Linked DNA regions of Homo sapiens: region 1 is linked to region 2. The links come from fine-mapping of genetic effects on gene expression. A gene starts in region 2. The other region holds a variant in brackets. All regions are shown on one strand. Distances are between the middles of the regions.

Evidence for each region. PIP is the estimated chance that this variant, and not a neighbour inherited with it, causes the effect.
Region 1: its variant is fine-mapped to the expression of COLGALT2 in whole blood (TOPMed, PIP 0.99).

The regions. Positions count from the first base shown.
Region 1 is chr1:183,958,934-183,974,798 of GRCh38, reverse strand. It overlaps COLGALT2 (collagen beta(1-O)galactosyltransferase 2), which reads left to right. Exons shown (of 12, transcript NM_015101.4): 4 at 1,049-1,183; 5 at 5,326-5,530; 6 at 10,779-10,898. Among named protein-coding and RNA genes, the nearest start is that of COLGALT2, 71 kb to the left of the region's middle. The variant A/T (reference allele first, on the strand shown) is at 8,181.
Region 2 is chr1:184,030,345-184,046,209 of GRCh38, reverse strand. It overlaps COLGALT2 (collagen beta(1-O)galactosyltransferase 2), which reads left to right and starts at 8,482. Exons shown (of 12, transcript NM_015101.4): 1 at 8,482-9,115. The coding sequence starts at 8,853. RefSeq lists silencers at 8,670-8,759, 14,501-14,795.

The DNA.
Region 1 (15,865 bases), 71 kb after region 2:
AGGTAAAGCAATGTAAGTTGTTCTTACAACTTTTTGGAAGAATTTGGGGGATATGAAAAAGTAATTATCTAAAAAAGTGATTCAGCTGAACAGCTCTGAAATGGTTCCCTTTTGCTCCTGAATGATCTGGGGAGTAGCATCTGTTGCTTGGCACAGTGATGCTCTCTTTGGAGAATTTATGTCCATCCCCATCCCCTCAACCACAGTGAAAATCTGCCCAAAAATGTATCACGCACACTTGTGACACAAATCCTTTCATAGAAGTTTTCAAATTGTACTGACAATATTTAACATTGTGTAGCTGTTTAAATGCCATTGAAGTGTACAAATGTTAAATCACAAAATTTGGGGTAAACAGATGGACTATCATAAAAATGAAGACTTCTGAATTTTTTATTGTGATAAAACCTACAAAAGGTAAAATCTGTCAGTTTATCCCTTTTTCAGTGTATAGTTCAGTATGATTATTTCTTTTATAAATTAGAATCTGTTGTTATACTGTCTCTAAATAAATCACTGTTAACATGGACTTCTAAGAATAGGAAATAGCTTCACTGGTTAGCATGGGTTGATATAATGTACTTAAACAAAAATTCTACTTGTCACATTAAAATTCATTGATAGATCTGTTTTGAGCTACTCTGGCATTACTATAGAAAAGCTAAGTAGGCATGCCCATCTGTACCTAGACTGGGCAGCCAATAAGTGTTTTTGAATGAACCTTTAATGGCTTGGGAGCCATTAATATCTTGTGCCTAAAACACTAGCCAAAGTGTAGGTTGGTTCCTGGTTGAGGCTATGCCCAGTATGGCAGCACCAATTTACTGCTTAGTGCCTTATGCAGAGCCCAACATACGAAAGTTAGACTAAATATATTTTGACTGAATGAAAGCCACCTAGCTGCAATGGGTTTCAATAAGGAGGACATAGATAGCTGGTTCCATATGTCATGAGCAAGTTTCTGGGATCCTTCAGAAGGGCTGGGTTATTCTCAAACTCATTACTGAAAAGTACCTTTTCACCTAACATTATCCTTTTCTTTTCCTAGTTCATAGATGTTGACAATTTCCTGACTAATCCACAGACCCTCAATCTACTGATTGCAGAAAACAAAACTATTGTGGCCCCCATGCTGGAGTCTCGGGGCCTGTATTCTAATTTCTGGTGCGGAATCACCCCTAAGGCAAGTCTTTTGCTTAAATGAATTAAGGCTACTAGTTTTAACAAGGCAACACCCGGTCAACAGTAGTCCCATTCACCTTTCTCTTGTTTACTCCCTTGAAACATGCGTGTCATTGTGTTCCCAGAGCAAGCATTTTTTAGGAAGGGCAGTAAATCTGGGTCCAATGCTACACCCAGTTGGGCTCTTCTGTGTTAATTTATTATGAAAAAAATAGTCTAAAGAGCTTAGCCTTAGAAACGTCAAATTAGCCAATTCCTGATTCAGGAATTACTATTTTTAATTAATTCTTTTTGTCCTTACAAAACTAACATAAGAACACTATAGAAAAACTTAGAAATTAAAAAAAGTTTAAAAGAAAACCAACAAGACAGATGTTAAATCCCCATCACCGTAACAACATCATAGATAGAAACTTGCACGTTTTTAGTAACTGTGTTATCATCAAGTGGCTATGTTCCAATTTACTTAACCTTTATCTCGGTTTGAAAAACATTTAAATTATTCACAACTTTTTAACTATCGTGACCGTCATGATTAATATAATTTTTCAGCATTTAAGATTATATCCTTAGGATAGCTTTTTAGAAGTGGAATTACTGAGTCAAACAGTACAAATATGCCAGGCGCGGTGGCTCACACCTGTGATCCCAGCACTTTGGGAGGCCAAGGCGGGCGGATTACAAGGTCAGGAGATTGAGACCATCCTGGCTAACATGGTGAAACCTCATCTCTACTAAAAATATAAAAAATTAGCCAGGCGTGGTGTTGGGCGCCTATAGTCCCAGCTACTCGGAAGGCTGAGGCAGGAGAATGGCGTGAACTTGGGAGGCGGAGCTTGCAGTGAGCCGAGGTCGCGCCACTGCGCTCCAGCCTGGGTGACAGAGCGAGACTCCCTCTCAAAAAAGAAAAAAAAAAAAAAAGTACAAATATTTCAATGACCTTCGATGTATGTTGCCAAATTTATTTCCAAAGAGTTCTAATAATGAAAACTACCATGGTAGGTTATTTTTATAAAATTCAAGTTAAAAAAGGTTTGATTTTTTATTATTTCTTTTTTTCATAGTAAAATCTTCAAAATAGTGGTCTGTTTTAGTGAATGCTCATGGCTGGTTATATTTTTTATTCTTTAATTAAAGAATTAGATAAATTCAACTGATTAATGTAATATGTATCAATGTAGGATAAAAATGTGCTAAGCAAAATATGTTGGCCAGGAGCAGTGTCTCATGCCTGTAATTTCAACACTTTGGGAAGCTGAGGTAGGACAATTACTTGAACCCAGGAGTTTGAGACCAACATGAGCAACATGGCGAAACCACATCTCTACAACAAATCAAAAAATTAACCAGTTGTGGTGTCGTGCACACCTATAGTTCCATCTATTCGGGAGGCTGAGCAGGGAGTATTGCTTGAGCCCAAGAAGTTGAGGCTGCAGTGAGCTATGATCACACCACTGCACTGCAGCCTAAGCAACTGAGACCCTGTCTCAAAAAAAGAGGGAGTATGTTCAATGTATTCTCATGGCCAAAGGGCTAAAGTTTGAGTCTCCCCTTTATATTTGGTTTTGTTTTGGATGAGAAATAAGGTCAGTAGTGTGCTGATAAATGTTTAATAACTGGCTCTTTGTGGGAAAAACCCTAGTTGGTAGCATTGCCAATTTTTATGGTTTAAATACTCCCACCATGCAAACAGCTTAAATGTTGTTAAGCTAAGGGAAAGGTTAAGTAAACTGCAGTATAGCCACTTGATGATACAGCTATTAAAAACATGTAAAACTGCCACATGAGGTGTCATTAGAGTGGTGGGGATTAACGTGATTTTTGTTTTTATGGATTCCAAGCTATCAACATGTCAACTGGTTTGCAAACTTTCTGAAAATTTAACAATGTGTGGTCCAGTACACCACTGGATGAAGCATTCCTCTTTTGTTGTAATTATTTCTTCTAGCTGTAAGAGATTTTGAATGCGTGCTATTTTCTGTGTCTCTTTTGGGAAGGTAATATGTTCATATTTCTAACAGCCATTCACTTCCTTGGGAGAAAACATTATATTGGTTTAAATTCATACATTTTCAGTGTTTCACATGGCAGAATCACTTGAGGGTTGTTTTTAATGAGTTGTGCTTTGACATCAGCAACAAGGGTGGGTTATCCTAGTGGCCGCAGCCTACAAATTTGTATTATCTCCTTATTTACTTTCAGGCTTAAAAGCAAATAGGAGAAATGTGCTCACTTGTTTTGTACAGTAAAACTAAATTCTGAGCAACTTAGGGACAAGTATTATTTTCCTCCATTTATTTTTGGCTTTCTACCATCCCAGTTAGTCTCTACTAGAGCAGGAATAGAAAGGGCCAGTGACTTCATAAATTCAAAGCAGGACCTGGTTCCCAGAGCCTTTAAACTCATTCAAAACAAAATGTCCTTGATGTTGTCTGGCCAATGAACAGGAATTATTACCAACAAGATTCAATTTATGTGGAAAAAGGAACACATTCATCATCTCTGCCTCTTTGCAGGAGGCACATTTATTCTCCCTCACTCTCCCTGCTTCCTTCCTTCTCACCCCCACCCCAAGGATATTCAGTGATTCATCATCATCATGGATTTTCCAAGCTAATCATTCTGGGAATATTGTTCCTAAGTAATCTAGAACTTTATATTAGACGCAAGTACTTAGGCAGCCCTTTAAAAAACCCGAGTCCCCTTTATCTCTTGGAAGACTGCTCATAAGCTGAAGTATTAGGAAAACCATAGAGGATGTTAAATGATCCTTAAGTTAAAGGCTAATAAAAACATTATAGTAATGATAATACTTCATATAATGAATTGCAGTTCCCAAAATAGGTTCATAGACCTTATCACATGTGATTCATTCTGCAGCTCTATGAGATTGACAGAGCAGCTGTTATCCCATTTTTCAGGAGAAAAAACTCAGGCTCAAAGAGGGTAGGCATGGACTAAGATCAAACGGCTAGAAGGTGATTAAGATGACTCTGAGACCCACATCTTCTGAGTCCTCATTTTTGATCCTCCTCCCTTATCATGGGGTCGGCATTAGGGTTAGCTCAGCTAGGACACTCTTCTAGAACCTGAAGGGAATGTCAGAGAAGTAGGTGAGGCTGTAGCACCTTATGTGTGGATGCTGAATTACAACAGGAAATGTAACCATGAAGTGATGCAACTGATTAATGAACACATAAGAACTTCCAGAGTATGGTGCCCTTCGGAGTGCTGGCTTTGCAAAACTTAACACTCATTCCAGTGAGCCTGCCATCACCTAGAACATTTTCCAAAATGCCTGGCAAAGCTTCCACAAGTATGTTTTGTAAGCATGTTTTGTTGAGATATATCTTCATCTTTTCTGGAAATGATTCAAGCTTTGGAATAAGGAAATTGGTTGTCCTGTGTGCTTGTGCAGAAGGACGTTTCAGAAGCTGAATCCCCAAAAACTATGGAGCAGCTGCAGCTTCACCAGAATATTGACTAAGTAACTGCATTGAAAGAAGACCCTCATTTGTATATCTAAGTAATGCATGTTTAATTACAAATATTAGCCACAGTGTAATGTCATTTTAATAGGAGCCGGTATTTGCTGATACATTCTTGGTGCTGGGCAGTAGTCTCAACACTATTCAGGTTCTACCTTACTTAAATTTTACAGCTAACCCCATGGAGTAGATAGTGCCGTCATCCCTGTTTTAGAGATGAGGAAATAAGCGCAGCAAGGTTGAGTCACTTGACCCATACCTACAGACAATAAGTAGCTGAGGTAGGATTTGAACTCAGGGAGTCTGACACTGGAACCTGTGCCCTTAACTGCTCTGCCACTTCTTAATACTCATGCTTCATATTTAATCATAAGTCAACATAAAATACACTTTTATGAAATTATTAAATCTAGAGATATGCTGAAATAAAAGTTACTTCTTATATCAAGACCCTTTTAGTATTATTTTATATGTAGACAGCATTTCTTGTGCTCACTTGGAAATTCATAGGCCATGATAAGAGGAGTGAAGGTGGCTTTGTTTGGGAGCTTGTATATAGCTGGTAATGACTTGAAAGGAATCAGTCTAGCAAATGACTGAGAAGGATGAAGACTTCAAATCAGAAAACACAACCCACCTATTTGCTCTTTTACAGGGCTTCTATAAGAGGACCCCAGACTACGTTCAGATTCGAGAATGGAAGAGGACAGGCTGCTTCCCCGTCCCCATGGTCCACTCCACCTTCCTAATTGACCTCAGGAAGGAGGCCTCGGACAAGCTGACTTTCTACCCCCCACACCAGGACTACACCTGGACCTTTGATGACATCATTGTCTTTGCCTTCTCCAGCAGGCAAGCAGGTACTGTTTGTCTTTGGTTGTAGTGCCACAATGGAGACACAGCAAAATGACCAGCTCCTTTGTTTTGTGCATTTTATTAAAAAAAAAAACCCTCATATGTCTGGTAGTGAGAGGCAGTAAATTGTCTGCAATAACCATACCAGCACCCTCTATGTTGCTGTCCCTGGGAGCACCAATGACCAAGAGCCAGGGCTGGCCTCTACCCAGGAACCCACTCTATTTTGAGTTGGAGGGACTGGTGGTGATATTGGGAATTATGGGAAGGTGATTGCTTCTCTGTGGTGCTACTGCATTGCAATTGTTTATTATAGAAGTTCATTTATTAATTAGGAAACTGTCACAGAGGCCTAAAACAACACTGGCAAAGACCCCAGACTTTAAAAATGGAAGTTTATTTCTTCTTGAAAAAGTCTGAGCTGCTGTAGTGGCTTTGTTCCACAAAGTGTTCAGAGTCCCAGGCTTCTTGTGTATTGCTTCTCACACTCCACGAGGTACTGCCCTTAATTGTGGAGTCCCAGGTGTCTCACCACCATGGATGCGTTTCAGCCAGCAAGGCAGAAACAACAGGGAGAACTCTCCCTGTCCCTTGAAGTGTGCAATCCAGAAGTTGAATGCAGTACTTCCATGCAAATCCTGTTAGCTAGAGCTTAGTCACAGGACAATACCTCACTGTAAGGGAGGCTCAGAATGTCGTCTTTATTCTCTGCATGCATGCACTGCAATTTTCACACTCTAGAAGAAGGAAAGAACAGATAAAGAGGCACCGAACAGTCTCAGCCTCAGTCCCTGTGGAAGGAGAGGCAAAGCGAGACTGAGGTCTTTTATGAACCACTGGGAAAGCATTTCTAGTGGGGCCTGGAGATTTTTGAGAAAGACAAGTCAACAGGAAGGAAAGTTATTTCTCTCATTTCACCCTACACTTGCTTCAGGAGGACAAAATTCACAAGAGCAGTTCAACAGCAAGACACATGGCATCTAACAGAGCAAAGCTTTGTTAGGATAATTCAGACTTTCCTGACAGAAGTTGGGTCCCATTATTAATGTGCCAGAAATGTGTCACTTAACCACTAGCAAAAATACGTTCATAAACCAAGAAGATGGTGAATAAACTCACTGTGGCCATATAACTGAGGGTGGAAAAGATGGTGCAAAGATCCTCCGGCAGCTGAGGAAGTGGCTGGCAGATGAGAATGTTAATACAAATTCAAGCTACAATTCACACATCAGACTCTCCTTAAAGCCATAGATGTCCCACTCATCAGTTGTAGATTTGCTGAGAATAAGAATATTTGGTAGAAATGGGTCAGGCTGATTTCCCCCTTGGCTGCTGGAGCAATTTAGACCCTTTGGCCAGGTGTAGGCATTTTGTAGCCCTTATGTCTAGGCAAAAGCAATCCTCATATGATTGGAAGATTTTTGTAAAGATTCCTATGTCAGTGTTAATGGAAACTCCTTCTTTCAGTTGGTCTGTGATTTGCTCTGACTTCCCCAGGATGGGAAGCAAAGTCAGGGCTTTTTGAGTCCTTTGAGTGCCAATCCCTTTCCTTCAGAGGTTGAAGTTAGGATGTTCCAAGAAAGTGAGATATTAACAATTACACGAATGACACTGCCTAACAGAGTCCTCCTTTATAGTCACTGCACAAAGCATTATTATGATGCAATGAACTAAATTATTATGATACATTGTATGAAACCAATACCTGGATATTGGTATGGGAAAAATGATTCAGGTTAAGCAGGAATTTTTCAGCTCTGCCCTGTGCTTGGCCTGTTCACCAGGATTTTGTGTGTTATTGGTCAGACTTTGAAAAGGCTTTTTTAGAACATTGAAAGCAGGTAGACACCCAAAGTTGTTTGGTGACTCATTTGGGAAGAGGAGATAGAAAAGGAAAGAGAGAGGATGAACTCCCAAGTGTTTCCTTCTGTTCCTGGCACGGTGTTAGTTGGGAGTTAAGATTTTTACATGTGAAAACACAACTAATAGTCATGAAGCAGTGAAAGCTAAGGGCCAGACTGGCGGTGCAGACCATGAACAGGGCAGGAGTCAAGGCAGGAAAGATTCACTGTCATTTTGGGGAAATGAAAGGTCTTTCTTGACAACTGTGGATTTTAAGGTAATATTGTACTTATCTCTAAGTATTTTCAAGAGAAACATGAATGAGCCTGGGAGTCATGTGCAGCCCAGGGCATGTCTCCAGGCTCTTCCTTCCTTAGTTTCAAAGCAAAGCACTTTCCTCTTTCTTCATGAAATATGATTGGTATTCTTTTGTTCTCACTCTTCTGAAGCTCCCTAGCTGTGTATCATCTATGTCCCAGGCAGGACCATCCAACCACAAACCTTGGTCCTAAATCTTTCACCCCAGACTCTAGCCATTGCCCCATGTGGGTGATGAGTGAGGAGCAATCCAAGTGTGCTGGTGAGCAGGGCTTGGCCACCCTTCTAGCCCAAGAAGAGAGCACATATGGTCATAGGCGCGTCTCTGTTCCTGTAATGAGTCCAGGGTCAAGAGTTCACCTCCCATTGTGGCCAGTGATCTGGGTTCTGTATCATGGCCACAGGAATCATCCCAGTGCCAGCCAGTCGTCTTCCAAATGTCTGATGTGAGTCAAAAGAGGTGAGTGATATGGGCAATGGGCAGACAGATCCTGA[A/T]CACCACTGGTAGTGATCAAATTTGTCCCCTTGTGGAGGGATGGCAATCCCCTAGTGACTAATGGTCTTGGAACTGAGCTTCCAATTACTGACTGGGTAGAAAGCACTTGGCATTGGCTCTTTAGGGACAAAGATTTGGCACTAATGACTTACTATGTGACCTTGGACAAGTGACAGCCTGAATCTGATTTTTCATCACCAAAGATAGGGATAATTACATCAATCTGCAATGTTAAGGTACTATATGAGTACAAGAAAATGTTTAATATGTTTAAAAGAAAAACAGTCCTTCAAAATGTAGCGTAATTCACTTCTCTTTTTCAAAAGAAAAATTGTCTTCCCCAGAAGCAGCATTCACTGGGAGTGCAGACTCTTTCATAGACTTTATCTAATTATTAATACATTTTCTTTTAAATTTTCTGTTATCAAACTGCCCATGCACATGGTTGAAAGTATTCATATAGTTCCCCATGGTTTATTAAGAAATGAACAGTCCCCTGCACATCACCCTGCATCACTTCTGTCCTCCAGAAGGCAACCACTTTTATCTCTAATATTTACTTCCATGTTAAATAATATGCATGCATTGCTACTTCTTGATTTTCTGGCTTCACCGTGGGCATTATTTGTTGACTCTCCACTATAGACTGTGAGGAGTTAGCTCTTTTTCTTCCTTTTTGCCCTCTGCATGCAAACACATTCTTCTCATCACCCTGTTCTCCCATTGTAATTTCAAACAGATTGATGGTCAGTGTTCTTGTTGTAATCATGCAAGCCTAACTCCAAGCTTGGTCATTCATAGGCTATGATTAGTTTTCCTTTGCCATTCTTTGGAGGCAATTCCTTTAATAATTGCCTTTTTTGCTTAGTTTTATTATTACTAGTATGATCCAAAACTAATCACTAATTACCTCAAACTCCTCTCAGAATGTCCAGATTTGTCAGATGTCCTTTTTTGCATATTTGCGAAGACGTCTGTTCTGGAGCTTTCTAATATATTCTAATCCAAGTGGTGCTGAAGCTATCAACCTAAGACTTATTTCTCTTCTCTTATACACTGACTCTCCTGTTCATGTTGTTTATAATCTTTCTTGTTGGTTATAATCGTCCTCCTCTTCTTCCTCCTCCTCCTCTTCCTTCCTTTCCTCCTCGTCCTTCTCTCACATCATCCAGCAGCTTTCTGAGAAAGTATGATGGCAAGTAAATATATTATGGTCTTGCATGTCTAAAAATGCCTTCCTTGTACCCTCACACTTGATGGATAATTTGGATAGGTATCATATCATTTTTTTATGGAAGCCTCAGAAAGTTAAATGGTAAAATGGTTTGCCTAATTAGGGTAGAGATGCAACTTTAATATATTTTTCCTTCCACTTCCTGAATTCATCATGACTTTACAAGAAGGTGCACTTTGAAGCTCCCCAGAAGCATTCATATGGGCAAACAGCAGAGCTAATGAGTTTGCTCGGTGAAGGCAAGAGAAGGGACAGTGCTTGGTAGACCAGCCTTGATTCAAGCCAGATTCAGTAAAAGCAGGGAATAAAGGTTATTTTCTTTTCTCCTTCCTCTCTGTTAATGCCATGAGACAGCTTCACCTGATTTGACAGATGATGTAGCTGACTGGAGGAAATTTCATCTGCACAAAATAGAGGAGTCCCTATGCAGATAATTATCTCTCTGGAAAACACTGACAATTATCGCAATTAACAAATCACAGGCTTGGATACATGGACCAGAGGCTTGGATACATGGCGGACTCATCCTTTTCACTAAGCAGTCTTATCATTGATCAGGAGTGTCAATTGCTGACCAATGATGTGTATGAGACCATCCTGATTCCTATATTTCTAGCTGTCTGGTTAAACACAGATGCCTTATAACTCTGCAAGTTATCAGGTGGGGCTATGAAGAACAATTTGAATATGAGAAGGGTATTGCATACTTCTGGTATTGTCACACTACAGGTTCTTAACAGGACATTCTGAAATGCAGACTCTTTTGTCTCTATATGAACTGATTTTGGAAGTTTCATGTCTGTTGGTTGGCTCCAAATCCATGCCTGCTAAGGGAAGCAATAAAACCAGGGAGAATCTTGGAGAATTTTAAATTTCCTTCGTTTTTTCGTTTTTTTGTTCTATGTATGCCTAGATTTAGCTTTAATAATCTGTCAGCGTTACAGAATTTTCCTGTTTGCTTTCATATCAAATGTGGATTTCATTCCTCATTTTCTTGTTATTTCCTGTAGGTGGATTACAGTGTTCCATTCTGCTCTCCAGAATGGGAATTCCTTGCCTCCCTTTTGATCCTTTCATGCCTTTTTTGTTCATTCCAGGCCATGAGTTTGCTTTTTCTTCAGAGGGAAAAAATCAATTTCCTCTGGGCTGAAGAATAGCCGAGTGTTTTTATTAGTCCCCAATGCTGTGTTTTACTTTTTTAATAAAGGAGCATTTTTTAGGTCTATAGACATACCTGAAACAACCACTTATTTAATTGCAGTGTCAAACTCAGCATCAGACACAGTTCAGGTTCCTTCTCCTCGCTTGTCACTCAGCAGTATGTTTTCTGATTGTTGGCTTTGTCCCTCTCTTGGATCCTCAGGCATCCAGATGTACCTCTGCAACAGAGAGCACTATGGCTACCTGCCCATCCCCCTGAAGCCCCATCAGACACTGCAGGAAGACATCGAGAACCTCATCCATGTGCAGATTGAAGCAATGAGTGAGTGACCCAGGAGCAGAGGGGATGGCTCTCGTTCCATTGCCACAGTGACCATACCAGCCACTTCCCTCCTCTTCCAGGATTGGAATCTCACAGCCATCAGTCTCCCCTGGCTGAATACATAGCTATTTATTTGTTCATTCTTTCCTAAATTTTTCCTATGGGAAATATGAATATGACAAGGTCTTTGCCATGTGGGAGCTTCCCATCCTGGAAGAGCGCTGGGTACACAAGTAAATACTTTCCAAAAGATCTGATAAGTGCTATAATAGTGTTTTGTGGTGTGGACTTAAACCCTAACTTGGCTGCTTTCTAATTATATGACTTTGAGCAAGTAATATCCTTAGTTGTAAAATGGAAATAATGAAAACTTCCAGGGTTTTTGGGCAGATTCATTATGGTATATGTAAAAAGGCTAATACAGCCACAGTAGTTATGACTTTAACTTAATAATAGCTCATGATGTAACAGATATCACTGTTACATCATAAAATGCTAAGCACTTTTTGTACATTAAAGTGTACAAAACTGTTTCATTGTTGTTTCATTAATCCTTGCAACAATTCAATGAAGGGTTTTTATTATGCCCATATTAAAGATGAAAAACAATGAGATGTTACCTTAAGTAACTTGCCCTAGATCATTCTGCTAAACAAATGACAGATTGGGATTTGAACCCATCTTGCTATCTCCAAAGTTCATGTCCTTAAACACTATTGTTATTGCCTCTGGGTCTGGCATGATGCATGAATTGCTGTGCTCAGTCATCAGTAGCTATGCTTTTTATTATGTGTGATGTACAATGGTGGCTAAAAGAGAAAGTAACCAATCCACCTAACCTAGGGGAAGATGTTGAAATGGCTTCCCAAAGCAGGGACTATTTTCTGTTATTCATCAGTAGAGCACGGGGGTGTGAACGTGGGCAGTGGAGGTGGTTAGGGAGGAACAGCAGAAACTGAGGCTAGAAAGTGGGCAGGAGCCCCGCCAAGAGGCTCTGATGTATAAGAAGGCATTTGGGCTTCAGCTGAAAGGACAGGCACGCTCAAAAAGATTTTAGCACAGAAATGTCAGGTTGAATTTGGATTTAGAAAGGTCACTCTACAGGTAAGAAAAGTGTAGGTGGAGCATGCATGGGATGCATGGGCAGTGGCTGCTGGTCTCAGGCCAGGGGTGAAGAGACCACTTTGGACATTTCACGGCTACTGGGCAAAAGGTGGTGAGGACCTGAGCTAGAGCAGTAACAGTGGGAATGGAGAGGAAGGAACAGAAGCTTAGGACATAGGCTTGAAAGGACATAGCCAAGAGTTGATTGTAGGTAGATGAGCAAAAGGGAGGCATAGAGAAAACTCCCAAGTTCTGTCTTGAGTGTCTGGGGGTGATTTTAGGAACTTTAAATGGAATAGGGCATGTAGCATAAAGGAGAGGTTTGAAAAGAGAGACCATGGCTGGCATGGTGGCTCATGGCTGTAATCCCAGCACTTTAGGAGGCTGAGGCAGGTGGATCACCTGAGGTCAGGAGTTCAAGATCAGCCTGGCCAACATGGTGAAACCTGTCTCTACTAAAAATACAAAAATAAGCTGGGCATGGTAGTGCACATCTGTAGTCCCAGTTACTCGGAAGGCTGAGGCAGGAGAATTGCTTGAACCCAGGAGGCAGAGGTTGCAGTGAGCCAAGATCGCGCCATTGCACTCCAGCCTGAGTGACAGAGTGAGACTCCATCTCAAAAAAAAAAAAAAAAAAAAAAAGAAAGAGAAAAAGAAAAGAAAAGAAAACAGAGACCATGAGTTTATTTTTAGATCCATTGAGTTGTCTATGAGTATCTGCTTCCCACTCCCTTGCTCCTACACTATAAATTCCTTTTTCATCATATTAGTCTCAGGACCTAGCACATTGTCTGTCACGTGGTAGATGCCCAGCAAATATTTGTTAAATGACTGAATGAATGATGATGAAATGATGAAATAAGGAGCTGGTTCACTGTGACAGTATTTCTTGAACCAGCCCTCAGGAATCTCCTTTGCGAATTTCTTTAATACATACTTTTTCTGCCACTTTCCCTATGTTCTAGGCCCTAAAGGATATGGGTGGCATCTTATTGCTTTGTATTCCAAGCACCTAGCACAGTGCGTGGCATGTAGTTGTTACCAAAAAAAATCTGCTGAATGCATGAACAAATGAGCAAATGAATGAATGAAAACTGTATTGACAAGGGCACTGAACCCAAAGCGAGAATAATGGGCTTGAACTTAGACACTGTCGCTTTTGAAGGGAGAATCAGATTTCAGGACTTCAGTTTCTTCATCTATAGAGTGATTTTGCAATGTTGAGAAGAGCAAATAAAAGACTATATCAACTCCATAAAATAATGAGGTGTTGCTATTATTATGACTCCATTTACCTCTCGATAAAGTGCTGTCCCTTATTATCCCTGTTTCATGGCTCTCGGTCTCGACTCCCAAGTAGGGAGAGTCTCTCTGGCCTCAGAGAGAGGCCAGCCAGACCTTATGTTCTCTTGTTTTCTCCCACAGGGCTGAGAGTATAAGCTCTCAGTACACAGAAATGCACGTGTCATCAATAAAGATTTTAATGATTGTAAATTACAAATATGCACACTACCATGCTAGCCAGGTAGAGTTCATTTGAGAAGAACCTGTAAATTATAGCTTTCATCATTGATCTCCCAACACATGCCACCTCTAGTGCTAAGCACTTTACATATCGCATTTTATTTCATTCTTATACTTACCTTCTGTCCTGAATTCTAAAAATATAGAACACAATAGGAGTAAGAAAATGTTGGAAAAATAAAATTTTGAGGTGTATAATGAAGAAATATGGCCTAGAAGTCCGTGTAAGATTGATAAAAAGTTGGTAATGACAAAATCCTATCAGTCAAGTATCCTTCTCTAATAAAAGATTAACTAGGTGTTAAAAACACTTTGCATAGTGCCTAGAACCCAATAAGCAGTAAATAAATGGCTGCTAATAGTGTTGTTAGACTATACTGATTGAAGAATAGGAACGGGGTGTCCAATATTTTGACTTCCCTGGGCCACACTGGAAGAAGAAAGATTGTCTTGGGCCACACATAAAATATACTAACACAACAATAGCTGATGAGCTAAAAAAAAAATCACAAAAAGAATCACATAGCGTTTTAAGAAAGTTTACAAATTTGTATTGGGTCACATTCAGAGCAATCCTGGGCCACATGTGGCCTGCGGGCCATGGTTGAACAAGCTTGCATTAGTATATGCATTTTGTTCATGAGCAAACATAGAATGCCTGTAATGTATGCGTCTTCTCTGAAGGTACTAGGGATTCAAAACATTTTATGATCAATTCTCTGTTTTCAGGTATGTATGATTTAATAGGAGAAACAGACAGATGTTAAAAAAACACTAACAACACAGTATAGCATTTTGAGAAAGGAGAAAATATCAAAGAAATAGGAATTTGGGATAGAGAGAGATTGCTATGGCCTGTGTGATCCAGGAGAGCCTCAAGTCCTAATCGTTCTTAGGCTAAGCTTGGGTACAAGTGTAAAATTTAAACAAGAAGAGTGGTATGGTGAGGACACTACAGGCAGAGGAAACAGACCAAGAAAAGACGAAGTATTCTCATGCTGAAGGAGAGCTGACTTAAAACAGTAGGCAGAAATAAAGTTCGAGAGGGTGGAGTGGCTTCATTGTTGTAGTCCTTGAATTCTTCTTCAGCTAAAGAAGAATTCCTATCTTAAGGAGCCAATGAAGGTGTTAGAAGAGATAATCAGGCTGTAAGGATTTATTCAACACATACTGTACCCCGCAGATTGTTCAAGATGCTGGGCATAAAGCAGTGAACAAAACAGGCAGAAGCCCTGCCATCAGGGAACTTATATTCTAACACAGAGAGTTAGACAATAGACAATATATCTGGGAAGCAGCCATATGAATATTTGGGTGAAGAATGTCTCAAGTGGAAAGAACAGCACATGTAAAGACTGTTAGACAGGAAAAGCTTGGGGGTGTTCCAGGGACAAAAGGCCAGCATGATTGGGGCATAAAGAATGAGTTGGGTCAAGGGAGATGAAGTAATGGAAGAAGAAATGTCCAGATCACACCGAACATTCTGGCCATGGTAAGGAATTTAGATTTTACTCCAAGAGTAATGGGAATCCGTGGAAGATGGGGTGGGGCAGAGGGGGCATGGCCTGAAGTGACTTGTGCATTTAGAAGGATCATTTGGGCTGTGGTGAGGATACTAGATTGTAGGGGACCAGTACCTCTCTCCTGGTGGGACATGATGGTGATTGGGATGTGAGCTCTAGCAAGGAGTTGATGAGAAACAGACAGGTTGAGGATATATTTTGGTGGTGGAGCAACAGGACTTACAGAGACCTGAATGCAGTCCATGAAGGAAAGAAAGGAATCAAGATGAGTCCAAGATTTTAGCCTGATATGCCATTTACTGAGATGGGAAAGACTTTATAGAAAAAGACTGGGGGTTGGGGAGCTAGTTTTGGTCACGTAAGTTTAAGATATTTAATAGGCATCTAAATAGAAAGGCAGAAGATAGTTGGATATATAAGTCTGGAGTTCAGGGAAGAAACTCCAGCTAGAGACAGATATTTGAGAATCATCAGCATCAGAAGGATATTTGAAGCTGTGGAACAGTCTGAACTCATGTAGTAAAAGAACACAGGATGAGAAGAGGACAGATCCCTGGGGAAGACAAAACAGCCAGAGAGCTAGGAGGAAAAATTGAGAAGTGTTTCAAGACGGAGCCAAGATGCTGCTGAGAAGCCAAGGAAAATAAGGATAAAGAATTGGTCATTGGTTCTGTCAAGAGAGAGGTCTGTGATGACCTTGACATGGGCCACTTCAGTGCAATGATGAGAACACAAATCCATTCAAGTGGACTGAAGAGAAGCCAATGGGGAGATGAGAAAGCTGAATCTTGATGGGATGGGGAAATGGAGAAATCC
Region 2 (15,865 bases):
CCCATTCTTTTAAGGCCTTCAACAGATGGGATGGCAACCCACATTATGAAGCGTAATCTGCTTTACTCAAAGTCTACTGATTTAAATATTAATCACATTTGAAAAATATCTCACAGCAATATCTAGACTGGTTTGACCAAGAAACTGGGCACCCTAGTGTAGTGAAGTTGACCCGTAAAATTAACCATCACAGGAGGTAAAGTTCTAAACAAAATGAAGAGACTGATTAACACAAAATTCAGTCTAGTACTTATCTCTGGGGAATGGAACAAAGCATTGTGACAAGAAGGGACTCAGGGCTTCAGAGTTAATGGTCATGTTCTGTTTCTCAAGGTGGGTGCTGGGTATATGGATATCCATTTTATTAGTAGTATTTAAATTAATGTATTAGTTTATGGATTATATCTGTTAGTTTATATTTCATGTTTATTAAATATTTTTATTAAAATTTTTCTAATATCTAGAGTACAAAGTGATAGTAAGTTAGGCAATTTCTATAAGTAAACAGATGCATATATGCAACCTTAAATAATGCCTGGCTTTGTAAATATGAAAAGACATCAAAAGCAATCCATGGTCCAAAAAATATCCCATGTCTATCTCTAGATATTTAGTCAACATCTGCTATCAACATGGATATTGAGTCTCACTGAAGAGGACTGAGTACAAACCCACATTGAAAATGTGCAAATTAAAAATGCCATATTAAAATTACCCCAAAATGTTAATGGTTGTGGTGGAGTAGTGGATCATGAGTGATTTTTTTCTTTTTTTCCCCCATTTTCAACATTTTTTAAAGTTCTATAGTAAAATAGACTTTAATAAATCATTGAATTTTAGAGCCTTTGGCCTAGAAGGGCTAATACAACACTCCACATTCATGTTAAAATATATCTTACGGCTTATTTACCTTGCTTAAATGTCCCTCCCTGCTTTCTTCTATTCCTCTCTCCTTCTCCCTCTCTCTGTCCTTTCTTCCTTCTTTCCTTCCTTCTTCTCCTCCCCATCTAAAACATCCAGTACAACATTAAACAGACGTAATGAGATCTGACATTCTTATCTTGTTTCTGATCACAGGAGGAACACTCAGTCTTTCACCATTAAGGATGATGTTAGCTGGGGGCTTTTTGTAGATGCTGTTTATTACGTTGAGGAAGTTCCCTTCTATTCCTATATACTGAGAATTTTTATGAGGAATTCATGTTGGATTCATAAATGCTTTCTCTGCATTTCTTGAGATGATCATATGATTTTTCAAGTTTGTTAATAAATCACATGGATTGACTTTTTCTTATTTTCTTATTGTGGTAAAATACATATAACAAAAAATTTACTATTTTAAGTGGTATTAAATACATTCATAATGTTGTGCAACTATTACTCATATCCATCTCCATGACTCTTTTATCTTTAAAACTGAAACATATACCCATTAAACAATAACTCCCCATTTCCCCTACCCCCATCCCCTTGGCAACCACCATTCTATTTTGTCTCTGTAATTTTGACTAACTACCTTATATAAGTTGAATCATACAATATTTGCCTTTAAAAATTGGCTTATTTCACTTAGCATAATGCCCTCAAAGTTAACATGTTGTAGCATATGTCAGAATTTCCTCCCTTCTTGAGACTGAATACTATTCCACTGTATGTATATACCACATTTTGCTTTTCCATTCACTAATCAATAGGCACCTGGTTTGCTTCCATATTTTAGCTATTGTGAATAATGCCACTGTGAACATGGGTGCACAAATATCTCTTTGAGACTTTGCTTTCAATTTGTTTGGGTATATAGCTAGAAGTAGAAGTGTTAGATTATATGGTAATTATATTTTTAATTTCTTGAACTGTCATACTGTTTTCCACAGCAGCTGTACCATTTTACATTCCCACCAACAGTGCACAATGTTCCAATTTTTCTACACCCTTGCCAACATTTGTTATTTTCTGTGTTTTTCTAGTAGCCATCCTAATGAGTGTGAAGTGATAAATCTTATAGTTTTGAATTGCATTTCCTAAGGATTAGTGATGTTGAGAAACTTTTCATGTGCTTATGGCCATTTGTATATCTTCTTTGGAGAAATGTTTATTCAAAGTCCTTTGCCCATTTTAAAGAAATGATTATATATAAAATTGTATAAAACCGTATAATTTTCTAGCTTTCTCTGTTACTACTTCCCATCCTATCTCCCAGCCATGCCCTGTTCATTGTATCTCTCAAGTGTGTCATACTGTTTCATTCCTTGCTCCTGCAGTTCCATCTACCTGGAATTCCCATCTCTTTCCCCTTCTGTCTTCCTTTTCTTAGTCCATGCTACTCATTTTTCTTTTCTTATATTTCGAATCAAATTATATTTTTTTCAGCTTTTAAGTTCAGCAGTACATGTGCAGATTTGTTACATAGGTAAACTTGTTTCATGGGGGTTTTTGATACAGAGTATTTCATTACCCAGGTATTTAACCTAGTACCCATTACTTATTTTTCCTGATCCTCTCTCTCCTCCCACCTTCCATGCTCCAATACGCCCCAGTTTGTGTTGTTCCCCTCTATGTGTCCATGTGTTCTCATCATTTAGTTCCCACTTATAAGTGAGAACATGTGGTATTTGGTTTTCTGTTCCTGCATTGGTTTGCTTAAGGATAATGGCATCCAGCTCCATCCATGTCCCTGTAAAAGACATTATCTCATTCTTTTTTATGGCTGCATAGTATTCTATGATGTGTATGCACCACATTTTGTTTACCCAGTCTATCATTGATGGGCATTTAGGTTGATTCCATGTCTTCATTATTGTGAGTAGTGCTGCAATGAACATACACGTGCATGTGTCTTTATGATAGAATGATTTATATTCCTTTGGGTATATAACCAGTAATGGGATTACCTGATCGATGGTCTTTAGGACTTTGAGGAATTGCCACACTGTCTTCTACAATGGTTCAACTAATTTACACTCCCACCAACAGTGTATAAGCGTTTTTTTTTTCTCCACAACCTTGCCAGCATGTTATTTCTTGACTTTTTAGTAGCCATTCCGATGGTGTGAGATGGTATCTCATTGTGGTTATCCTATAATTCTCAGCCTATCACAGCTGCCCCAGAGGCATTTATTTCCTCCTCTTCTTCGCTGTGGTTTTTACTTGAACTTCTCCAATAATCAATGATGTTGAGCTTTCCTTCATATGATTGTTGTCCACATCTATACCTTCTTTTGAAAAGTATCTGTTCGTGTCCTTTGCCCACTTTTTAATGGAGTTGTTTGGTTTTTCCCTCTTGTAAATTTGCTTAAGTTCCTTTTAGATACTGGATATTAGACCCTTGTCAGATGCATAGTTTGCAAAATTTTTCTCCCATTCTGTAAGTTGTCTGATTACTCTATTGATAGTTTCTTTTGCTATGCAGGAGCTCAGTTAATTAGATCCCATTTGTCAATTTTTGTTTTTGTTGCAATTGTTTTTCACATCTTCTTCATGAAATCGTTGCCAGTGCTCATGTCCTGAATGATATTGCCAAGGTTGTATTCTAGGGTTTTTAGAGTTTTGGGTTTTACATTTACATTTATAAGCCATCTTGAGTCAATTTTTGTATCTGGTGTAAGGAAAGGGTCCAGTTTCAAGCTTCTGTGTATGGCTAGCCGATTATACCAGCACCATTTATTGAATAGAGAATCCTTTCCCCATTGCTTGTTATTGTCAGGTTTGTCAAAGATCAGGTAGCTGTAGGTGTGCAGTCTTATTTCTGGGTTCTCTGTTCTGTTCCATTGGTCTATGTGTCTGTTTTTGTACTAGGATCATGCTGTTTTGGTTACTCTAGCCCTGTAGTATAGTTTGAAGTTGGGTAGCGTGATGCCTTCAGCTTTTTTCTTTTTGCTTAGGATTGCCTTGACTATTTAGCCTCTTTTTTGTTCCATATGAATTTTAAAATAGTTTTTTTCTAGTTCTGTGAAAAATCTCAATGGTAGTTTAGGAATAGCATTGAATCTGTAAATTGCTTTGGGTAGTATGGCCATTTTAAAAATATTAATTCTTCCTGTCCATGCATGCTACTTATTTTTCAATGCTCAATTCAAAGACATCTCTTTAATTAAACATTTCCTAGCTATCTCCACTTCCCCACTTCCTTACTTATGCTCCTTTTTCCATCATAAGACATAAAATGACTTATAGCATTTGTGCATTTATATGACACATCTTATTTATTCATGCATTTCCAGCAACTATATCTTGGCACAGAGTAGGCATTGAGCAAGTGTTTGAAGGAATGAGTTAATATAATTTAAGGGATGCATCTATTCTTAAATGAGACGTAGAAGTGTAGTTTACATTTGTATAAACTTGTTTTGAATTGGAAAACATTCCTCCGTAGTGACTATTCTATAGCTCTTGGATGCAGCCAGAGCATAGACAAAACTTTGACACTGACGTAGTTTAATTTTAGCCTTTCCCACCTCAGTCACTGCTCTTTTTCTCCCTTAATATTAATTCCCTTCCTAGGACCCAGAGTCCTCGGGCCTACGTATCAGAAATCCATAAAACTTGCTTTGTCACCAAAGAGACCCATGCTTCAAATTAGGATCCCATTCAGTTCCCTTTATCAAAACTTCTTATAGGCCATTTCAGTTTAGGTGATAAGATTTAAAAATCTGATTGAATTAAAAAGATATCATCTAATGCTCCTCTCTCAAGGATTTTCATGTTGAAATTGGCAGAATTGTCAATTCAAGTACATTTTACATTGTAGGATTTTAGGATGGATCAGAAAAGCGAGTAAAACAAACCAGGTAGTGAAAGAAAGATATTTCAGTACAGAAGAAAGAAGCCTGGATAATTCAGCCAAGAGACTCTTTCTGCCAACTATGGCCCAGCAGGACTTACGAGGGGCTGGCCACTTTCTCCCTGTTTTTCCAAGGGAGAAGCATTCAAATATTCAACACTCAAATGATTGGCATTTAGCAATTTCATAAATGTTTGTTGAATGAAAAAATGAGGCAAGCATTTAAAACTTTTTTACCTAGGAAGGAATTGATGTTCAAAGAGGTCAAGTTTCCAAGGTCACAAAGAGAATAAGTGACACCAGTGAAATGAAAATTCAGCTCCAAGTGTCAGTTGCTCTTTCAAGCCTATCACAGCTGCCCCAGAGGCATTTATTTCCTCCTCTTCTGGGCTGCTGGAGCCACAGACATCTTGAGAAGCTTTCCTGCAAGAAGTCCTCTGGCCACCTCATAGGCCCTGTCCCCACCACATTGCACTAAGGGTGACAGTCCAAGAGGTTTTGTTGTCCCAGATGGAAGTCCCCTGTGCTGGAACAGTATGGGGAGGGGATATGAGAGAAAGTGCTTACTTCTAACTTTATGTAGAATCAATTGGAACAGTCTACTGGCAGTGGAGACAAAGAGATATGTGTGTACAACCCTGACTTTCCATTCAGCCGATTTTCCATGGAAAGAGCATTATAAGCAATGAATATTTTAAAATATAATTGGCTTTTATTTTTAAATTAGTTTTTTTTTTCAAATTAACTGTCTTATAACATCAATCCTATGCGGGGGGGAAACATCCAAATTCACATTACTGATTTCTGAAGAACTTATGAAACAAATCTGTTAGTAAGATGGGGACTTAATTTTTCCCAGGCTTCCCCTCCACTGCCTCCCAACCATATTTACAATGATCTTCTACTGTTGCATACCCTGTTATTACCTTAATATTCTCAGTCACTAAATGAGCACTCAATTAAAAGTTTTAAATAGGTGTTTTGTAGGTTATGTGGCTGGGAAACCCTTGATTTCATCTACAGAGCAGAGCAGGTTGTAGTTATTTTAAGAGAACTCCATGGAGCCGATTTCATTATAATGTCATTAGAGACCATACAGGTTTAGATGCTTCACCTTTCTTTGAAAAAATAGACTCAGATAAGCTGTTGACTTTAGGTAACTGTATTAGTCTGTCCTCACGCTGTGAATAAAGACATAGCTGAGATTGGGTAATTTATAAAGAAAAAGAAGTTTAGTGGACTCACAGTTCCACATAGCTGGGGAGGCCTCACAATCATGGCAGAAGGCAAAGGAGGAGCAAAGACACACCTTACATGGCGGCAGGCAAGGGAGCATGTGCAGGGGAACTGCCCTTTATAAAACCATCAGATCTTGTGAGGCTTATTCACTATCACGAGACTAGCATGGGAAAAACCTGCCCCCATGATTCAATTACGTCCCACGACACGTGGGGATTATGGGAGCTATAATTCGATGTGAGATTTGGGTGAGGACATAGGCAGACCATATCAGTAACAGAAGGAAAATAAGACAGAAATGTGGTTGCCTAGCTTTAAACTCCCTCTGTTTGCAGTAAAGTGAACAAATGATAACTATCAAACCAAGTTTGGCTAAGGAGTGCGGATTTTAGTATTGAAAGATGAGTGGGACATAGTTCAAGAAAGGGAAACAAGAAAGACAGAACAACATGGAGATTGTCTGGACCTTTCTAACAGTCCCATCACTACCTCCCTTGTGGAAATGACCACATCTTCCTCTATCCCTTCACTGTAGCTGGTACATCTGTTACAGTACTTCTAACAGATGTTTAACTCTCAGTCTTCCCTACAAGACTGTGAGCCCCTTGAAAGTGGGAACAATTCCTGAAAATGGATGGAGGGGAAGGAAATGTCTGTAGGCCATTCGATAAAAAAATATGAAGATTAGAGAAGAGATTAGAGCAGAAGACATAGATTTTGAGGATATAACCACAGGAGACCATATGGAGTGGGAAGACTAGCACACTATAGGGAGGCACACAGTGAAGGGGCTTGGCTCAGAGACAAGTAGTATCAGAGGAGATCTAGGATGGGAGATTATGTAATCGAAGTCCAGGAAGGTGAGAACGGAAGAGTTTACTGAATCTGCCAATGCTGAGGCCATCTGTTGGTTTTGCAGAACAGTGGGGAGGGCTGACGCCTTACTGCACTGTGGTGGGAAAGATGGGAGATGAAGAAGTGGAGAATACAAGTATAGATCTCTCTTCCAAGGAGCTTGGTCAAGCAAAGGGATGACTAGAAGAAGACACAGGACTTTTTTTTAAAGCTTTTCTTTCTTTTTTTTTTAACGGATAAGAGAAGACTGACCAAGTATTTAGCTTGAGAGAAAGGAGTTGATAGAGATCAGTTGAAGATTCAGTAGAGAGTGGAATGATAGAGAAAAATCATGGGCTAGAAAGGGAGACCTCTCCCTTTCTAGTCTGTGATCAAAGACCCTGTCGTGAGGAGGCACCTGCAAGTAAGAAAGGTCTTGGTAGGGATGCTAGTTGGAGACAGTGGTGTTGGGGGAGCTGGATGAAGGAGGTGATATACTTCAAAAGACAGTAGGGAAGACTTCTAATAGTTGCTGAGAAGGATTGATAACAACTAATAAAAAGACTATGGGACAGACCTGAGGGTGAGTTGGGATTGGAGATCATGAATGTGCACTGGCACCAAAACACCCTCCATACTTATCTATCAAAGGCTACACAATATATCTTCAAAACTAAATATCCAGCCGAGCATGGTGGCTGATGCCTGTAATCGTAACACTTTGGGAGGCCGAGTTGGGCAGATCACTTGAGCCCAGGAGTTCCAGACCAGCCTGGGCAAAATGGTGAAAACCCGTCTCTACAAAAAAAAAAAAAAAAAAAAAAATTAGCTAGGCGTGGTGATGGACACCTGTGGTCCCAGCTACTCGGGAGGCTGAGGTGGGAGGATTGCTTGAGCCCAGGAGGTCGAGGCTGCAGTGAATTGTGATCGTGCCTCTGCACTCCAGCCCCGGCAACAGAGTGAGGCCCTGTCTCAAAAAAAAAAAAAAAAAAAAAGTAAATCTCCTTTAGCAGTGTATGCCAGCAGTTTCATTTTATGTGCTAATTGTGTTCTTCCTTCACCCCTTCTTTTCTTCCTTATCTCTTCTCTGCTCTCCAACATGCGCGAATTTTCCCTCTTTGTTACTCTATCATATTGGCTTATTACGGAAAAAGAAAACCAGCTAAGTGAATTTATTCTTTCACAGCCCTCCTGTGAGGAGGCTTACTGGGTTCACAGTAGAGTGAGGCTTCAGGACAGTGTCTCCCAAGGGCTTTCTTTTATTTTGCGGGGTCTGATCTGGCTCCAAAATTCTCCAAGTCTTCAAACTTTGTGTTATTAGGTGTCTACTCAGTCAAGAATGAATTTCAGAAGTTGAGTATATAAGAAAATGCGACATGCTGCCTTTGCGGTGGTTAAACAAGTGTTTGTCATAATCGTGAATAGTTGGGGAGACTTTTCATTTTAGAACTCTACTCAGTCAATAGGTGCATTATGAAAACTGGATACATTGCATCACTGTGAAGGGCTTCAGTCTGCGGTTTGCAAAAGCAGAATAAATTTTCTTGGGGTTGTACCGTTATGTACACACACACACACACACACACACACACACACACACACTCACAGGCTCATTGGCAGACAGGGCCACAACTCGCGGCTCTAGGGAAGGCCACAGACCTCAGCTGTACGAGCGGAACCTGGACTAGAGGAACTTTCCTCAGGACTCAGGGCACACAGCCCCTCGGCCACTACTGTCTGCGAGCCCGAGGCGCAGGGGAGCGCCAGCGGCTGCAGGTACGCTGCGCACCCGCACTGGGGCCTGGGCGGTGCAGCGGCGGCGGGAGGGTCCTGGGAACCGCAGCCGCCGAGGCCAGTGTGTGAGCCGGCCGGCCGCGGCAAGCCGCATCCCCCGGCCGCCCCTCGCAGCCCCTTGCTCCCCGGCAGCCGCCGCCGCCCTCAGGCAGCCCAGCCGGGCGCTCGCGCCAGGACTTCCCCGCCGCCCGCCTCGGCCCGGAACATGGCTGCGCGCCCTGCTGCCACCCTCGCCTGGTCGCTACTGCTCCTCTCCTCAGCCCTGCTCCGCGAAGGCTGCCGAGCGCGCTTCGTCGCCGAGCGGGACTCGGAGGACGACGGAGAGGAGCCGGTGGTTTTCCCGGAGTCGCCCCTGCAGAGCCCCACGGTGCTCGTGGCGGTCCTCGCCCGCAACGCGGCGCACACGCTGCCGCACTTCCTCGGCTGCCTGGAGCGGCTGGACTACCCCAAGAGCAGGATGGCCATCTGGTGAGCGCGCACGGGCCCCGGGCCGCCGCGGCGGGACGCGGGGGCGGCCTGCCCAGCGCGGACAGCGCCCGGAGCAGCAGCTGCAGGGCGAGGGAGCCGCTGGAGGGGCGGGGGGGCACGCGGAAAATCTGGCGCACACACCCCCTCGCTGCCCGCGCCGGTGGCTGGCGGATCGGGCGGTCAGGCTGCGGAGGGACGCGCGGGTCAGTGTGCGCAGAGGGTGCTGATGGGGAGAACCGGACCGCTGGAGCTCTGGAGGGTAGCCTGCGAATTGGGGCTTTGTCCCACAAGGGGCATGGGGGACACCCCTCAAGGGGACTTTCAGTTCCCTCGCTTTTAACTCTCGAGGTTTCCTCTTTCCCCACCTCATACTGCTAGCCCTGACGTGAGGGGATAGGGTGCCTGTCGCCGTATTCCCATGTAGATACGACAGATGGAACGTAACTGCGGTTGGCCAGGGGCTCCGCAGTGGCTGGGGCGCCGCAGTGCGCTGCTCTGACTTTCCGGTGCCGGGCTCCTGCTCCAGGCTGGAAATGTGCTCCTAGCTCTCCTAGGGGGACCTGGACCTAGGGGTGGAGATTGGGCGGAGCCCGCGGAGTGTGCCCAACCATGGCACCACCGTGGGCCTGGTCTCCTGCGAGCGCTCCGGGCTGTCCCTGCCGGTGCATCGGGGTTCCACGTCCCGGGGAGAGACGAAGATGCCCTGGGAAAGATAAACAGCCAAGTTTTGTCCCCGGAGGAAAGAAGCTTGGACCTGGTCCCTGTGTCTGCTGCGGGGAGGGCCAGGGGATAAGTGCGGGTGCCTGCCCGCCCCACCTTGTAGAACTTGGTCGTCTCGCACCTTTTATAAACGCGAGGATCCGAGGGCGAGAAGTTAGTTGGTGGCCAGGTTAGCCGCTGAGTGGGTTGTGGAGGACAAGGAGGTGGATGCTGGCCAGGGGAGATGTGCTGTCAGGTAGGTACTCGGACAAGAAGACTCTGGCCCCCTGAGGAAGACAGAGCCCAGGTCACTCTGGAGCAATTTCTGTCTTGTGTTGATAAAGGGAGCTGTTCTCAGGCGAGACACATCCTTAAAGCAGCGGTTGGGCAAAGAGAGGAAGAGGAGTAAAAGCAGCAGCTAGAATTGGCAGCCTCAGAGTACCTGGTGGGAGAGGTGCAAAGGTGCGAAAGCAAACATGTGATATAGTACAGCTCTGTGCTGTACACTGCTTTACTATATACCCTGCCATACGTGACCGCCTGGCGGAGAAGGGCATATTATGTGGAAAGAGAGCACTGGGACAGCCAGGCTTTAAACCAGAAGGAAGGATTTTTTTTTAACCACTTCGGTACCAAAAGAAATTCACACATATCAGTTACCTTAGTTGTTGTGTTTTTTTTAAGAGATATTTTAAAATATGGTTTTGATCTTTATGCATGATTTAGTTTTTTAAAACGTTACAGTATTTACCATAAGAAGTTGGTGAGTGGTGAAGCAGGTGTCAGGCACATGCTTTGCTACCTGATTTAGAGACATTACCTCTTTTTATCATACAGTAAACTTTTAAGAGGATGCTATGATGTTTATTTTGCAAAGAAAGAGACAGACTTGCATCAGTTCAGTAAGTCACTTAAAGTGACAGAATTAATAAATGGTGAAACTGGAATTTGAACCCAAGGCCACCCTAAAAAGGCAGGAAACATGATATAAACAAAATTTACATAAGCCTATAATCTACAAATTAGGAGACTTGAGTTGTTTATTACTAGTTTGATATGTGATTTGGGGCTGGTTGCTTGGGATCCATAGGCATCAGTTGCCTCATCAATAAAACGAGGGAGTTGGAATAAATGATTTCAAAAATTCTTTATGGCTCTTGAATTCCATAGATTTTGCAATATAATTAGGATCAACCAGCATCAATGTACATCCTAAGTTCCCTGTAAGTTCCAGATGGTATGGACACTGGTGTCTTACTTAGATGAGAGAATTCCAGTTCTGCATAGACCTTTGAAATCTGTTGTCTTTTATGTCCAGCATTGGCAGGTTAAGCAAGAAGTGCAAGGCCATGCTTGCGTCAGTCATTGAAGACTCTTCTTTGAAAAATTTTGGTTCTGTCTTTAAAACATTGTGTAATTCTTTAGGTAACAATAATACAAATCCCAGTTTCTAAATAGTTCTTTTCAGCTCACAAAGGAGCTGTAAAGAACCTTTGGAAATAACTTCCATGCACTGTTAACTCATTTGATTCTTACTGCCATTCTGTGAAGAAATAAAATTATCTCTATTTCCCAGAAGAAGAAATGTGTTTAAAGTGATTGACTTACTCAAAATTACATTTATTTATAAATTCCACACATAATAATAAGAGCTCGTGGTTCTTCTAAGAACTTCACATTCATTTTCTGGTTTAAGCTTCAAAATGACCCTATCAGATATGCACTGTTATTATACCACTTTACAGGTGAGAGAACTGAGGTACAGAGAGGCTGTACAAGCATATTCTTCTAATGCATTTTTTAAAATAAGAACCAGCCAGATCAGGGCTGAAAAAAAGTGTATTTAGATATGTGTGTTTTTTTACAGATAAATATGATTCATTTTACTGGGCAGTGTAAGGTGATCTGAATGGCTTTTAAAGGGTTTGGGGAAGAACCAAATGATTTATAAATCAGATTGGGGCAGTTGTATGGATATGGATGTCTTCTTGATGAGTGGACACTTAGTTTGAACTCAGTTTTGAAGGAAGAGTAAAAATCAACTAAAACCTGGGAAAGAAGGATGGCTCTAGAAAAAGGGATCAGCAAGGCAAAAAACAAGCAAAAAAAAAAAAAAAGATAATAGGGCATCAACCAGAGTTTTCTCTCAGGGAGTTCAAGTGGGTGGCAGGTCTAATGACTGCAAGTCTCCAAACAGATTGTATTGTACCATAGAATCTCTTTGGAAGTGCTGACTTCTGGTCTGGCCCTAGGGGAATATTTGGCTGGGAAGCTTATGAGATATAACACTCTGATGGGAGGTGGTACCTCAGTTTAGGATGTTACAGATTTGAGGTGCTTCTACCGATTGCTTGCCTCTAGTTTCTCATTCCCAAGCTCTATGCAACATTCCAAGATGCCAAACTGATTAGTATCCATTCTGCAAAGCCAGCACATGCTGATGTCAAAAATGGCTGTGAGCTACCCAGAACTTTGTAAAATAGAACCGCAGTGAATACAGAGCCACACAGAATTCAGCTTCCTCTGAATCTGACCACAATAACTCACTCTGTGCAGACTCACTCTTCTCATTCATCCACTCACAGGCTAGAGGAGCATCTGATTTCTGTCCCAGATGGGTCAGTGAGAGACCTGGCTTATTGATCACATTCAGACTCCCCTGTTATGTGATAATTTTTCTCACTTTAAGTTCTGGACCAGATCTGCACTGCACATACAGATGAAATGAGTATCATCAAATTGACCTGGAAGATACTGTTGTTGAAGAATGTCTGCAGTTATCTCAGTCAGCATCAAGTTTATTCAGATTAGTCTGAACAAAGGAAAATTTATATTTTAGAGATACTTTGTATAAGCAAAAAGGAAAGCTTTTTACATTTACCTGTCTGATCTCAAAATCCACCAAGCTAATTGTTTTCCTTCAAATATCACAATCCTGTGATAAGGACCTAAGGAAGATATCTATTTCATGTGTCCTAAAACCTGCACTAAGTTTTAGGGAATTGGGAATATGCTGAGATGAAGGGAACTGTGAGGCATTGTGACAAGTGGTAGTGTACTTCAGTGGGTTCTCCTTAATTCAGTGGAACCATGAGCAAGTAGCCTTAGCAACAGAGGGAAGGCTGACCTCATCCTCCTTAAACCTATGATTAGGGAGAGTGGGGCCAAGTACCATGACAGTGAAAACCGAAGCATGGCGCAGGGAAAAACATTTGCCCCAAATGAAACATTAAGTTTTTCTTTTGGAGAGCCTGCTGTTGCTTGTGGGAAGACAGTTGGGATTCACAGAGTCTGTGCAGGCACAAGGCAGTAACTGCTATGTAATTACAGAAAGATTTGGGCATTTTGTTTGGCAGAGTTTTGAAAAGTAACATACTAAATTGGGAACCGCTTTATGGATTTTTAAATAAAGAGAGGAGCTTCTGTTGACATAAACATAAACAGTGATGAGCTGGGGGATGGTCCTAACATTTTGCATACTACTTTATTTCTGCATTGTTTGGGGATTATCTTGAATTTATCTCCACATTTTAATGTCCAATCAGTAGCATTTTCATAATTGTTTAACTAGAAATACTAATATACTTTGTGTTTATAAACTGTTCCAAACTAGTATCAGTGACATTTTTCAGCACCAGTGGTAAGAATGATGTCATATTTTATCATTACACTCTTGATATTAAATGTTGTATGTTATCCCTACAGATAGAAGTTTCGGTTTATGGCTGAAAAAGCAGATGATGCCTTAGGCCCCTTCTGTCTGTTAGTCTGTTTTCCTCACCTTTTTCCTCCTTTCCTCATTTTCCCAATCTGGTAGTTTAGCGTGGAGGGCATCAACCAGAGTTGGAGGAAGAAATATACAAGCTTAGGGTCAGATAGACTAGAGCATAAATCTTCTGTGTGATTGTGGGCACATCAGTAAACCTCTAAGACATAGCTGCCTTATCTTCAAATAACTAATAGTAACACCTGTCTCAAAGAGTTATTGTTACAAGTAAATGATATAAGGTATGCACAGTGTCTTTTACATAAATGCTACTAACAATGATAGTTGCTATTTCTTTTGAATCTTTTCCTTTTTCTCCTATCTCCTTTACCTTTACCTTTCAAAATCAAGATTTTAAAAAATCTTCAAATGGAAATTTGTTTAGTTTCTTCTTTCCAACAACAACAAAAAATATTAGTATAGGAAACTAACATTTATCTGGATGCAGTGGCTCATGCCTGTAATCCTAGCACTTTGGGGGGCCGAGGTGGGCAGATTTCTTAAGCCAAGGAGTTCAAGACCAGCCTGGGCAACATGGTGAAACTCCATCTCTACAAGAAATGTAAAAATCATCCAGGCACGATGGCATGCACCTATAGTCCCAGCTACTTGGGAGACTGTGGGTGGATTGCTTGAACCTAGGAGGTGGAGGTTGCAGCAAGCCGAGATTGAGCCACTGTGCTTCTTCCTGGGCAACACAGCGAGACCCTGTCTCAAAAGAAAAGAAAAAGGAAAAGGTAAGGGAAGGGAAAAATAAAGAACTAAGGAAGGAAGGAAGGAAGGAAGGAAGGAAGGAAGGAAGGAAGGAAGGATACATTCATGGAGGCACTGTTCTAGACACTTTGGTATCAAAACTGATTTACTCCAGACAACAACCCTAGGTGGGAGATGCCATTACATTCTACTCTATCACTTTACACAGAAGGAAACCGAGGCACAGAGAATATAAATAACTTGCCTGAGGTCACTAGGCTAATGCATGGTGGAGCCAGGATGTGACCCAGGCAGCTAATGTTGCAGACCGAGTACAGATGGTCTGCTTAAGATTGTGAAAAGACCAATTAGTTCTAGTTTTTGCTTCTGTCGGTTGACCCAACTTGGGAAGATAAGAACGCTAGTGTTTCTTTCAAATAAGAATTGTCATTTCCACTTGAATGATGCAAGGGTCTTAGTGGTTCTCTTCCGCTGTCTTGATAATTTCATCACTTAGTTCAGGCACTTTTTAGTGAACTCTAATCTGTTTTGGTATATTTCATAGGGACAGATTATGACTAAAATGTGGGTTGTACATAAATATGCAGGTCACTTGCTGTGATCATAGCTACATAACAGTAGAAAGAAATTTCTCAAGTATTATTAGTGGCAAATGATTAAGGTGGCACTAATCATACACGTATTGGCTACATTTTCAGTTCATATTGGTAAAATAGAGATTCCATTTTTCAGGCTTTTTAATCAGTAGTCTTAGATTTGGTTGTCCCCTAAATTCAGCTTCATTCCAAATGATTGAAGAAATTATCAATCCTCCCTGCAACCTCCAATTTCAAAATATGATTGGAGCTCAGAATATTTCCTCTGGGTAAAAACTGAAGTGACTAATAAATGACACCAATCCTGTTGTTCCAGTTATGACAGCTTAACTACAGAATTAGTAAGAATGCCTAAGTTGCCCTGGTTTTATTATATTGAGTTCCATGATGAGGCATCTAAAGCACAGGGCAGTTAAGAGATTCCCATGGTGATTATGGAATGAGATAACTGATTTCTAGATTTTTAATCCTGTGTAGCTGTTTTAATGCTGATTATTTTATAATGAATATCCTTCTTGGTTTAAAGGAGCATGGGGAGTATTTTAAGCAGAGTTTGGTTTTCTCAGATCTGTTTTTAGCTCCTTTATCCAAGTGATTAGGCCAGGGAGTTTCTTTGTGACTCCAAATACATAAGCATGTGCTTCTTAGGTTCCTTTTGCTTGTCTGTTTCTGGTGGTCATAGGAATGAACAATGAATGCCTTGTAACTGAGAAGGCTGCTGGTTGTCTCTTGGTTCTTTTTCCAACACTTAAACGTGCACTTGGGTCATATTGCTGTGTGGCACCGTCTCCAAGTCTATGGCACAGTATAGTAGGACCATTATAAGGCTTATATAGGACTATAGTAGGACAATAATAAGGCTTGTTTCTGCATATTTCTTGACATAGCATAACAACATACAGTAAAGTCTGAAAGAAAATCATTAGCCTATGGTATGGCCACTACACCTATTCCCCAGTTACCATATCATGAAGA